2 separate regions of the Homo sapiens genome follow, and region 2 is linked to region 1. The links come from fine-mapping of genetic effects on gene expression. Tissue or cell type: blood mononuclear cells. Region 1 holds a variant in brackets; the other region holds the start of a gene. All regions are shown on one strand. Distances are from middle to middle.

Region 1 (6,076 bases):
ATCTAGTATAACTCTTGTTGTTTTATATATTTTATTATACTGGAATGGCTCGTGCCCTCGGTCTCTTGCCTCGGCACCTGGGTAGCTTGCCACCCACACACGCCTGTAATCCCAGCACTTTGGGAGGCTGAGGTGGGTGGATCACTTGAGGTCACGAGTTCGAGACCAGTCTGGCCAACATGGCAAAACCCCATCTCTACTAAAAATACAAAAAAAAAAAAAATTGTTTGGGCTCAGTGGCATGCGCCTGTAATCCCAGACTCAGGAGGCTGAGGCATAAGAACCACTTGAACGTGGGAGGCAGAGGTTACAGTGAGCGAAGATTGCGCCACTGCATTCCAGCCTAGGCGACAGAGTAAGACTCTATAAAAAAAGGAAGGAAGGAAGGAAGGGAGGAACGGAGGAAGGGGGAAAAGCAGAAAGAAACACACCAGACAGGGTGTAGTGGCTCAAACATGTTGGAGAAGCATTTCTGTTCATAGAACCATGCCAAGCAGGGCGGCGGGCAGCAGGTGAAGCTCTGCAGTGTCTGACGTAGCTGTAGTGTCCACACAGAGGCATCTACTTCCTGCCAGCATGGAGGGTTTTGTGGATCAGGAAGTGGGTGCCAGCCAGAGGTCTTCTCTTGACTGAATGCAGGCTGGGAAGGTGGGAGGAGGGGCCCTGAGTTGGAGGCGACGCTTACTACCCTGCTTTTGCAGATCAGCCAAGGTCACAGAGCTTAGAATGACACTGGAGGTGCTAGGTCCAAGCCCCAGGGCAAGGCAGGCAAAGTGTTACTGAGAAGGACCCCGCATATCCCCGGCTCCTTCCAACTCAGTTCACCCCATTCCAGGTCGGCTCCTGTGGTTTCAACAGCCGCATCCTGCCCCACGTGTACCCCATCCGGCTGGTGAAGGTCAATGAGGACACAATGGAGCTGCTGCGGGATGCCCAGGGCCTCTGCATCCCCTGCCAGGCCGGTGAGCAGGGCCCCCGCATGGTCCCCACCCGGAGCAGGGGTCCCCACGCCCTGCCTGCCTAGCGCAGCCTGAACATGGCCTTCTCCCTAGGGGAGCCTGGCCTCCTTGTGGGTCAGATCAACCAACAGGACCCGCTGCGCCGCTTCGATGGCTATGTCAGCGAGAGCGCCACCAGCAAGAAGATCGCCCACAGCGTCTTCAGCAAGGGCGACAGCGCCTACCTCTCAGGTGCGCAGCCTGCTAGGCCCCGGTGACTGGCTGTGCGGATGGGGATCCTCCACCCATCTGCCCCTCTCCCCTCTGCCAGGTGACGTGCTAGTGATGGATGAGCTGGGCTACATGTACTTCCGGGACCGTAGCGGGGACACCTTCCGCTGGCGAGGGGAGAACGTCTCCACCACCGAGGTGGAGGGCGTGCTGAGCCGCCTGCTGGGCCAGACAGACGTGGCCGTCTATGGGGTGGCTGTTCCAGGCAAGCTGGGGTTGCAGGGGGTGGTCCTGAGGCATGGTCCTGAGGGAGCTCAGCCAAAAGGGGCTTAGAAGTACACATGCCTTTGGGCAGTGCACAACCTGGACAACTGCTCATGGCAGCCCAGGAGGAAGCACTGGATCTGGAGCCAGTTCACCTGGGTGATGTTGAGCCTCAGTTTTGTCATCCAGAAAATGGGATCATGAAAGCCCACCTGTCTTAGGGCTTCAATGAGCCAAGCAGGAGCTCCACAAAATGTGTGGCTGCTTCCATAAATGTCATCCCAGGTTGGGAGAGACTGGAGATTACAGACCAGGGGCTACTGCTTGACAGTGTATCTGGTCCTGCTGGTGGGGAGGATGAGAGGCGGGGTGTCCTCAGCTGAGCCTCTGCCTCCAGGAGTGGAGGGTAAGGCAGGGATGGCGGCCGTCGCAGACCCCCACAGCCTGCTGGACCCCAACGCGATATACCAGGAGCTGCAGAAGGTGCTGGCACCCTATGCCCGGCCCATCTTCCTGCGCCTCCTGCCCCAGGTGGACACCACAGGTGCGAGTCTCCCCCACTCCAATCTCTCTCTTCATCCATCAGTGTGTCTGTTGATTCATGTCTTGGTCCATTTTGTGTTGCTCTAAAAGAATACCTGGCCGGGGCCAGGCACGGTGGCTCACGCCTGTAATCCCAGCACTTTGGGAGGCCGAGGCGGGCGGATCACGAGGTGAGGAGATCGAGAGCATCCCGGCTAACACAGTGAAACCCTGTCTCTACTAAAAATACAAAAAATTAGCCGGGCACGGTTGCGGGTGCCTGTAGTCCCAGCTACTTGGGAGGCTGAGGCAGGAGAATGGCATGAACCTGGGAGGCGGAGTTTGCAGTGAGCCCAGATCACGCCACTGCACTCCAGCCTGGGCGATAGAGTGATACTCTGTCTCAAAAAAAAAAAAAAAAAAAGAATACCTGGCCGGGTGTGGTGGCTCCCGCCTGTAATCTC[C/A]GCACTTTGGGAGGCTGAGGCAGGTGGATCACCTGAGGTCAGGAGTTCGAGACCAGCCTGGCCAACATGGTGAAACTGTGTCTCTACTAAAAATACAAAAAAAAATTAGCCAGGCATGGTGGCATGCACTTGTAGTCCCAGCTACTCAGGAGGCTGAGGCAGAAGAATTGCTTGAACCTGGGAGGCAGAGGTTGCAGTGAGCCGAGATCAGGCCACTGCACTCCAGCCTGGGTGACAGAGTGAGACAATGTCTCAAAATAATAATAATAATTTCAACATGATTTTTGGTGCGGACAAACAAACCATATCCAAACCATTTACTCATCCTAGTTCAGGACAGTGTCCTGGGACTGACACAAGGGCTCACAGCCAGCTAGCACTGTGGGCTCTCACGGGTCCCTTCTGCTGTTTTATTTTAGTAGTTATTTATTTCCATTCCTCACTTCCACTGCCACTAAGCATTCTGAAATAGTGTTTTTTTTGTTTTTTTTTTTTTTTTTTTTTTTTTGAGATGGAGTCTTGCTCTGTCACCCAGGCTGGAGTGCAGTGGCGTGATCTTGGCTCACTGCAACCTCTACCTCCTGGGTTCAAGCGATTCTCCTGCCTCAGCCTCCTGAATAGCTGGGATTACAGGTGTGCACCACCATGCCCAGCTAATTTTTTTGTATTTTTAGTAGAGATCGAGTTTTACCATATTGGCCAGGCTGGTCTTGAACTCCTGACCTCAAGTGATCCACCTGCCTTGGCCTCCCAAAGTGTTGGGATTACACACATGAGCCACTGCACCCGGCCTCGGTGTATCTTTTCTTTTTCTTTTGTTTTTTTTGTTTGTTTGTTTGTTTGAGACAGGGTCTTACTCTGTTGCCCAGGCTGGCATGCAGTGGCACTATCATAGCTCACTGCAGCCTCAGCCTCCTGGGTTCAAATGATCCTCCCACCTCAGCCTCTGGAGTAGCTAGGACTACAGGCAGGCACCACCATGCCTGACTAATTTTTTTGATTTTTTGTAGAGATGGGGTCTGTATTAGTCCATTCTCATGCTGCTAATAAAGACATATCCGAGACTGGGTAATTTATAAAGGAAAGAGGTTTAATGGAACTCACAGTTCCACATGGCTGGGATGGCCTCACCATCATGGCAGAAGACGAAGGAAAAGCAAAGGGACTTTTTAATGGTGGAGGGCAAGAGAGTGTGTGCAAGGGAACTCCCCTTTAAAAACCACCAAATAAAGCCATCAAATCTCGTGAGACCCCTTCACTATCATGAGAACAGCACGGGAAAGACCCACCCCCATGATTCAACTACCTCCCACCGGGTCCCTCCCACAACACGTGGGAAGTATGGGAGCTACAATTCAAGATGAGATTTGGGTGGGGACACAGCCAAAATATATCAGGGTCTCACTGTGTTGCCCAGGCTGGTCTCGCAGTCCTGGGCTCAGGCAAACTTTTTCTTAAAGGACCAGATAGTTAATATTTTCGGCTTTGCAGGCCATACAGCCTCGATTGCTATTCAACACTGCTATTCTTGTGCAAAAGCAGCCATAGACAATGTGCAAATGAATGAGCATGGCTGTGTGCCAATAAAACTTTATTTCTAAATTTTTATTTATTTTTTGAGACAAGATCTTGCTGTTGTCCAGGCTGGAATGCAATAATGCAATCATAGTTTACTGCAGTCTTCTCCTCCTGGGCTCAAGTGATTCTCCCACCTCAGCCTCCCAAGTAGCCGGAACTACACGCACGTGCCATGACACCCAGCTAATTTAAAAAAAAAAAAAAATTGTTGGCCGGGTGCGGTGGCTCACGCCTGTAATCCCAGCATTTTGAGAGGCCGAGGCGGGCAGATCACTTGAGGTCAGGAGTTCGAGACCAGCCTGGCCAACATAGTGAAACCCTGTCTCTACCAAAATTTTAAAAATTAGCCACGTGTGGTGGTGCACGCCTATAATCCCAGCTACTTGGGAGGCTGAGGCAGGAGAATCACTTGAATCCAGGAGGTGGAGGTTGCAGTGAGCCGAGATCACACCACTGCACTCCAGCCTGGGTGACAAAGCAAGACTATGTCTCAAAAAAAAAAAAAAAAAAAAAAAAAAGGGTTTTTGCAGAGACAGAGTCTCACTATGTTGCCCAGGCTGGTCTTAAACTCCTGGGCTCAAGCGACCCTCCTGCCTTGGCGTCCCAAAGTACTGAGATTATAGGCATGAGCCATTATTGTGCCCGGCCCCAGTAAAACTTTATTTACAAAAACAGGTGGAGGGCCAAATTTGGCCCACAGGATGTAAGTTGCTAAACTCTTATTCACTGTGTAACAGACACAGCCCTGCCTGTCATGTGGGGAATGGACACATGACCAGGCAGGGTGTACATTTTCTTGCCCTGGTGAGGAGTGGTTAGGGAGGCCTCACTGGAGGAGGGGGCATGAAGCCAGGATCTGACAGACAAGGGGGAATCAGGCAGGCAAAATGGGGAAGAACATTCCTGCCCAGGGGACAGCCTGTGGGAAGGTCCAGAGGTGCAGGAGAGGATATTGAGTTGAGGCCTCCCAGAAGCCACCTGCTCAGCCCTTATCTGCCCCCCATCCCCACTATAGGCACCTTCAAGATCCAGAAGACGAGGCTGCAGCGAGAGGGCTTTGACCCACGCCAGACCTCAGACCGGCTCTTCTTCCTGGACCTGAAGCAGGGCCACTACCTGCCCTTAAATGAGGCAGTCTACACTCGCATCTGCTCGGGCGCCTTCGCCCTCTGAAGCTGTTCCTCTACTGGCCACAAACTCTGGGCCTGGTGGGAGAGGCCAGCTTGAGCCAGACAGCGCTGCCCAGGGGTGGCCGCCTAGTACACACCCACCTGGCCGAGCTGTACCTGGCACGGCCCATCCTGGACTGAGAAACTGGAACCTCAGAGGAACCCGTGCCTCTCTGCTGCCTTGGTGCCCCTGTGTCTGCCTCCTCTCCCTGCTTTTCAGCCTCTGTCTCCTTCCATCCCTGTCCCTGTCTGGCCTTAACTCTTCCCTCTTTTTCTTTTCTTTCTTTCTTTCTTTTTTTTTTAAGATAGAGTCTCACTCTGCTGCCCGGGCTAGAGTGCAGTGGTGGGATCTCGGCTCACTGCAACCTCTGCCTCCTGGGGTTCAAGTGATCCTCCCACCTCAGCCTCCTGAGTAGCTGGGATTACAGGCACCCGCCACCACGTCCAGCTAATTTTTATATTTTTAGTAGAGACGGGGTTTCACCATGTTGGTCAGGTTGGTCTTGAACTCCTGACCTCAGGTGATCCGCTGGCCTCGGCCTCCCAGAGTGCTGGGATTATAGGCGTGAGCCTCTGGCCCGGCCTTTCCTTTTTCCTCTCCTCTCCTGCCGAGAGTGGAACACGCGTGTCCTGGGAGCTGCATCTTGTGTAGGGTCCAGCTGCTTTTGGGGACTGCAGGAATCATCTCCCCTGGGCCCTGGACTCGGACTGGGGCCTCCCCACCTCCCTCTCGGCTGTGCCTTACGGAGCCCCGATCCAGGCCTCCTGTGGCTGTTGGGTTCCAGATGCTGCAGCTCCATGTGACTTCCAAGCAGGCCCTCCGCCCTCCCTGCTGAATGGAGGAGCCGGGGGTCCCCCAGGCCAACTGGAAAATCTCCCAGGCTAGGCCAATTGCCTTTTGCACTTCCCC
Region 2 (6,076 bases), 32 kb before region 1:
CTCAAAACAAACAAACAAACTGGTAAGATGGAGGGGGAAAAGGGAGGATAGGAAAAAAGGAAGGGGGGAAGAGAGGAGGAGGGCAGGGAGGAGGAGAGAAAAGGGCAGAAAGGAGAGAAGGAGGGAGAAAGAGAGAAGGAGGAAGTGGGGTAAGAGAAGAGAGAATCAGAGCACAAGAAAGGTGGAGGGGAAGTTTAGAGAAGAAAAAGGAGGAGGAGGGGTAAGAAGAGAGGAAGGAGGAGGGAAAGGAGGAGAGGAGGGGAGGAGGGACAGGGAACACTCAGCTGACATTTATGAATGAATGAATCTCAATTCCAAGTAAGCATGACAGCTCCAGTCCTCAGTTTCTTTCTTCCTTCTTTCTTTGTTTCTTTCTTTTCTTTCTTTCTTTCTCTCTTCTATTTTTTTTTTTTTAAGACAGGGTCTTGCTTTGTCACCCAGGCTGGAGTATAGTGACGCGATCTCGGCTCACTGGATCCTCTGCCTTCCGGGTTCAAGTGATTCTGCTCCCTCAGCCTCCGGAGTAGCTGGGATTACAGGTGTGCTCCACCATGCCTGACTAATTTTTGTATTTTTAGTAGAGACGGGGTTTCGTCATGTTGGTCAGGCTGGTTTCGAACTTCTGGCCTCAAGTGATCCACCCAACTCGGCCTCCCAAAATGCTGGGATTACAGGCGTGAGTCACCACGCCCAGCCTGCCCTCAGTTTCTTTACCTGTCAAATGGGGTGATCACAGCGGTGCTACCTGGCTAGGTAAGAGTGCAACTGCAGTTACTGGTCATTGCTGACTCTTCCAGGCCCAGAAAGCAGCAGGCCAGTGGCTGGCTCTGGGCCTGTCCTCCGGATCTTCCTCGTGATCCCTCATTCCAGCCACCCTGCTGCCCGCAGGGACCAATGGCAGCGTAGGGGGTGAGTGCCTGCCCAGCCCTGTCCTCCAAATGCATTGGAATCAGGCCCGGGCCGCCTCCTAAGGAGAACGCTGGAAAGGTCGGCCAAGGAGAGCAGAAAACAAGCAGTGGTGGAGTCGGCAGTGGGGCAGAGGAGGGGGAGCTGGAAGGGAAGGACCCCAAAGCAGAAGCCCGCACAGTAGGCACAGCGCACCCAAGAAGGGTCCAGGAGTCTGCAGAAACAGAAAGGTCCCCGGCCTCAGCCTCCTAGTCCCTGCCTGCCTCCTGCCTGAGCTTCTGGGAGACTGAAGGCACGGCTTGCAGCTTCAGGTCAGCCAGAGAATGGGGTTGTGCGTGCCCCCAGGCCAGCGCTGGCAGCGCCTGGGGGAGCATCTAGGACCCCGGGGTGCAAGTAAAGGGCCTGTAGGTGCTTCTAGGAAGGATGGGGACCTGGCGTGTGGATTTTGTCCTCCCTGGGATCCTGGGGTGTGACGGTGAGACTTAACCGACAAGGCTTCGGGACATGGATTAAGAATTAGCTGTGTCCTTGAATCACACGTGTTAAGACCGCGGCGGTGTTTACAGTTAGAGACTTCTGAGGCCCCAATGGTGTGAGTTGAGCACTCCCCCGGGCCCTGGAACGTGTTTTTAAGACCGAAAGAGGCTTTGGGGCTTGGATTTAGGACAAGCTGGAGCAAGAATACAGCCCGCGCGGGCCGTGGGTGTGGACTGGGATATTTTTGGTCCCCCGGGGTAGAGATCCTGCACGCCAACTAGGGCTCGGGTCCTGATATCTTGCGAGCCACGCCCCAAGGCTGCAGGACACGTGTGTTTCCTAAAAGGAGAGGGGGTGGGGCAAGGCTTGGTTGTCATGGAGACAGCGGACGACCCTGGCGGGCCGTTCTAGCACCCATGTCTCTTTGGCCGTCGCCTCTCCGGTCCGGTTGCCTCTCTATGGTCGTGGCTTCTGGAAGACGGCCGGCCTCGGCTCTGCGGGCTGAGGGGCTTCGAAGTAGACAGGAGGGAAGAGGGGCGGGGCCTAGGTCCTAGGGGGGCCGGAGTGAAACCCAGGAGGTGGCGACCGAGCCAAAGCCTGAGGGCGGGGCCCGTGGCCAGGATAGAACCTGAGCCTGGGAACTTGGGCTAGGCCCGGAACTGGGGTGGGGCTTGAACGGATTGGGGAGGGCTCTAGTTTCGGGAGGGTGGGGCGTGTGCTTATTGCGGGGGGGTGGGGAGGCATATGTCTAACCTAGGGGGTGGGGCCTGGCTGAGAGGGGCGGGACTCGGGGAGAGGGCTTGTACCTGTGGGCTGGGCTAGAAGCATAACCTAAGGGCGGGGCCCAGTGAGTGGTGAAAAGGCCACGGGGTAGAGGCAGGACCAGGAGGAAAGGGGACAGGACGTGAAGGGTAATTCGGGGATCGAGGATAGAGGCTAGATGAAGGCATGTGGCGAGGCCTGACAGTGACCGACAAGGTGGACATGCTGGCTCTGGGGGCGGGGACTGTTGTAAGATTGGCAGGGAAGGATGGGCTCAAAAATATGGAATAGAGCGGACCCAGGGTCCGGGGGCGGAGCCTGGCCAGGACCTGGCCAATCCCAGGCCTGGGGCCCTGGTCTGGTTCCTAGTTAGCGGGCGGGTGTAAAAGCCTGGAAAGGGGCGATGCCTGGCCTGAGGAGTTGACCAATCCCAGGCCTGGGGGCGGAGTCTGACTCGGAGCGCGTTCCCGGACTCGCGGGGGGCGCAGAGCCGAGGCCTGGGGGCGCGGCTCGCTGTAGAGGCGGGGGCGGTCGTGGGGCGGAGCGGGTCGTGGGGCGGGGCTGGAGCGGCCCGCGGCCTCAGCTCTCTCTGCTTCCCCAGGATGCGGGCTCCGGGTGCGGGCGCGGCCTCGGTGGTCTCGCTGGCGCTGTTGTGGCTGCTGGGGCTGCCGTGGACCTGGAGCGCGGCAGCGGCGCTCGGCGTGTACGTGGGCAGCGGCGGCTGGCGCTTCCTGCGCATCGTCTGCAAGACCGCGAGGCGAGACCTCTTGTGAGTGTTGCCGGGATCCGTCCAGGGCTGGGGGCGGGGCTGAGGGCTCTGGGGGCGCACGGTGCAGGGCTGGGTTGCGGGGACGGCTTGGAGGGTCCGGAGAGCTGAGGGTGCTTTGTAGGTTGGGGGCGGGGCTGGGCCGAGGGCTGGGCGGGGGCGGGGCCTGAGAGGGTGACCAGTTGGGGGTCTCTGAGGGGGCTACAGGGGACACTTTAAGGATTTCTCGAGGAAGATGAGTAGCCTCTAAGGTGCTTCGGGCGTTGCAGGCTGCTTAGGAGATGATCTCAGGGGATTTGGGGGGCAATTTGGGGGTCTTTGGGCAACTGGTGGAAATTCCAGGGAGCTGGGGCTGACTGGAAATCCGTGGCGGTGTGGGGGTCTTTTTGGAGCCGTGATAACTGTGAGAGACTTCAGGGGGCTCTCCAGTAGGTCACCGGGGCTCACAGGGACGACCCAATAGATAGTCTCTGGGGGGTTGCCAAGACACTTTGGGTCTATCTAGGGCTTTCTCTGAGGGATGAGCGAGCTGCTCTATAAAGGACTTCCCGGGTTTCTGAAGGTGTGAGTTTCCTCGGGATCGTTTACAGCTGGGGCACTGTTTGAGATTTTGGGGTCTGTGTGGGACTTTGGGTTTGGGAGTTGTTCGGAGTGTGTCGGGAGGCTGCTGTGTATTCCAGGACTTGTTTGGGGGGTCTCTTCTGGAGACTGGGACACTGGATTCATGCTAGGGGGGCAGATTCTGGTGTCCTGTGCAAGGATCCTTGGAGGGTTTTTGCGGTGTCTCTGAGGGACTTGCTCAAACGAGCCGTTGGGGGTCCTTCTGGGATGAAACAGGCATTGCTGGGGGCTTCTATCAGAGCAGACCTCAGGAACAGCACCACGTGGGAGCAGGTGAGCGCCGGCTAGCGGGGCAGGGCTCAACACCTTCACAGCTCCTTGTAAGATGGAGTAGCAAGAGGGACTGAACCCATTGTAAGGAGGGCACAGAGGGTGTGGAGATGGGAAAGATCCCACCGTAAGTTGACTGGTTCTGAACTTTCTAAAACTCACCCCTTCTGCATGCCATGGCCCCCTGCCCCCGGCTCCTTGGTTGTTCTGATGTGGAAATCTGACTGTGCCCTCTGCTCAGACACCTTCCATGGCCAGCCCATCCTTGGCAGAAGGAAGACTCAGCCCCTAGCTGGGCACTCAAGGTCCTACCATCTGTTCCCTGCCCACCTGCCACTCCCCCCATCCATATGTTCACCTGGTCTTCAGAAAGACTTGCAGTGTCAAGCTCAAGCTGCCCAGAACATACTGGACCCCTTTTAGCCAGGGCAGGCTCTCCCTCTGGGAACCTTTGCTGAATTTTCCTGCTCAGCACCCTCCCATAGCTCCTTGTTGCCCTTAGAATTGACGCCATACTGGCCGGGAGCGGTGGCTCACGCCTGTAATCCCAGCACTTTGGGAGGCCGAGGCAGGCAGATCACGAGGTCAGGAGATCAAAACCATCCTGGCTAACACGGTGAAACCCCGTTTCTAATAAAAATACAAAAAAATTAGCCAGGCGTGGTGGTGGACGCCTGTAGTCCCAGCTACTCGGGAGGCTGAGGCAGGAGAATGGTGTGAACCCCGGAGGCGGAGCTTGCAGTGAGCGGAGATCATGCCACTGCAGTCCAGCTTGGGCGACAGAGTGAGACTCCGTCTCAAAAAAAAAAAAAAAAATAGAATTAGAATTGAGGCCATACTCCTGAGCATTGCGCACGAGGTCCCTGACCATGTCCCAGCCTCCGCTTACTTCCCTTTTGTCGCCTAGCTGCACTTACCTTTTGTCTATTGCTCATTTGTTTGTTTGTTTGAGGCAGAGTCTCACTCCGTCGCCCAGGCTGGAGTGCAGTGGTGCGATCTTGGCTCACTGCAACCTCTGCCTCCCAGGTTCAAGTGATTCTCCTGCGTCAGCCTCCCAAGTAGCTGGGACTACAGGCACGTGCCACCATGCCCAGCTAATTTTTGTAATTTTAGTAGAGATGGGGTTTCACCGTATTAACCAGGCTGGTCTCAAACTCCTGACATCACGTAGTCCGCCTGCCTTGGCCTCCTAAAGTGCTGGGATTACAGGCATGAGCCACCATGCCTGGCTCCCTTTTTTTTGAGACAGGGTGTCTTCTCTGTTGCCCAGGGTGGACCAGCCTCCATCTCCTGGGCTCAAGCAATCCTCCCACCTCAGCCTCCTGACTAGCTGGGACTACAAACGCCTGCCTCCGCTCCTGGATAGTTAATAGAATGTTTTTTATAGAGATGAGGTCTCGCTATATTGCCCAGTCTGGTCTGGAACTCCTGGCTTTAAGCGATCCTCCTACCTCAGCCTCCCAAGTGGCTGGGATGACAGGTGCACACCACCACACCTGGCTAATTTTTTTATTTTTTGTAGAGACGTGGTTCTGCCACGTTGCCCAGGCTAGTCTCGAACTCCTGGCCTCCAGCGATCACCCAATTTCAGCCTCCCAAAGTGCTGGGATTACCGCGCCCAGCGTGAACTGCTTTGAACCATATTGTCTACTTGACTTTCAGACAGCCAGATGGTGCAGTTGGAGTTGCAAACTCATGTGAGGTTATGAGTCATCGATCGAGATTTCACCCCTTCCTCCTAACAGCAAGGTCTGAGATACCAAATTTCCTTTTAGCTCCTGGTGTGTGTATGTTAAGGAAAGATCTTATTTTGATTTCCAATTCACCTTTATGTTGAATGGGCATGCTTTGAGGTCTTATCAGACTCAAACCTGCTTGTCTGACACCTAAGCTGTCCCCCTCCTGGGGCTACAATGACATTTTGGCCTCTGGTTGGTCCTTATTTTCTGATCACCTTGTTGCTACATTAATAAAAAATTAACTCGGCTGGGCGCGGTGGCTCACACCTGTAATCCCAGCACTTTGGGAGGCCGAAGCGGGTGGATCACCTGAGGTCAGGAGTTTGAGACCAGCCTGGCCAACGTGGCGAAGCCTTGTCTCTACTGAAAATACAAAAATTAGCCGGGCGTGGTGGTGCACGCCTGTAATCTCAGCTACTTGGGAGTCTGAGGCAAGACAATCACTTGAACCTGGGAGGTGGAGGTTGCAGTGAGCCAAGATCGTGCCATTACACTCCAGACTGGGCAACATGAGCGAAACTCCATCTCAAAAAAC

Evidence for each region. PIP is the estimated chance that this variant, and not a neighbour inherited with it, causes the effect.
Region 2: it holds the start of SLC27A1, and the variant in region 1 is fine-mapped to the expression of SLC27A1 in blood mononuclear cells (TOPMed, PIP above 0.99). The same link has a PIP of 0.9 or more in whole blood.

The regions. Positions count from the first base shown.
Region 1 is chr19:17,499,443-17,505,518 of GRCh38, forward strand. It overlaps SLC27A1 (solute carrier family 27 member 1), which reads left to right. Exons shown (of 12, transcript NM_198580.3): 8 at 836-962; 9 at 1,053-1,190; 10 at 1,270-1,434; 11 at 1,831-1,977; 12 at 5,013-6,076. The coding sequence ends at 5,170. The region is part of intron 1 of PGLS-DT (PGLS divergent transcript); the gene reads right to left. Among named protein-coding and RNA genes, the nearest start is that of PGLS, 9.2 kb to the right of the region's middle. RefSeq lists enhancers at 49-917, 918-1,786. The variant C/A (reference allele first, on the strand shown) is at 2,420.
Region 2 is chr19:17,467,794-17,473,869 of GRCh38, forward strand. It overlaps SLC27A1 (solute carrier family 27 member 1), which reads left to right and starts at 2,731. Exons shown (of 12, transcript NM_198580.3): 1 at 2,731-2,914. The coding sequence starts at 2,748. RefSeq lists enhancers at 1,796-1,925, 3,347-3,848 and a silencer at 2,676-2,805.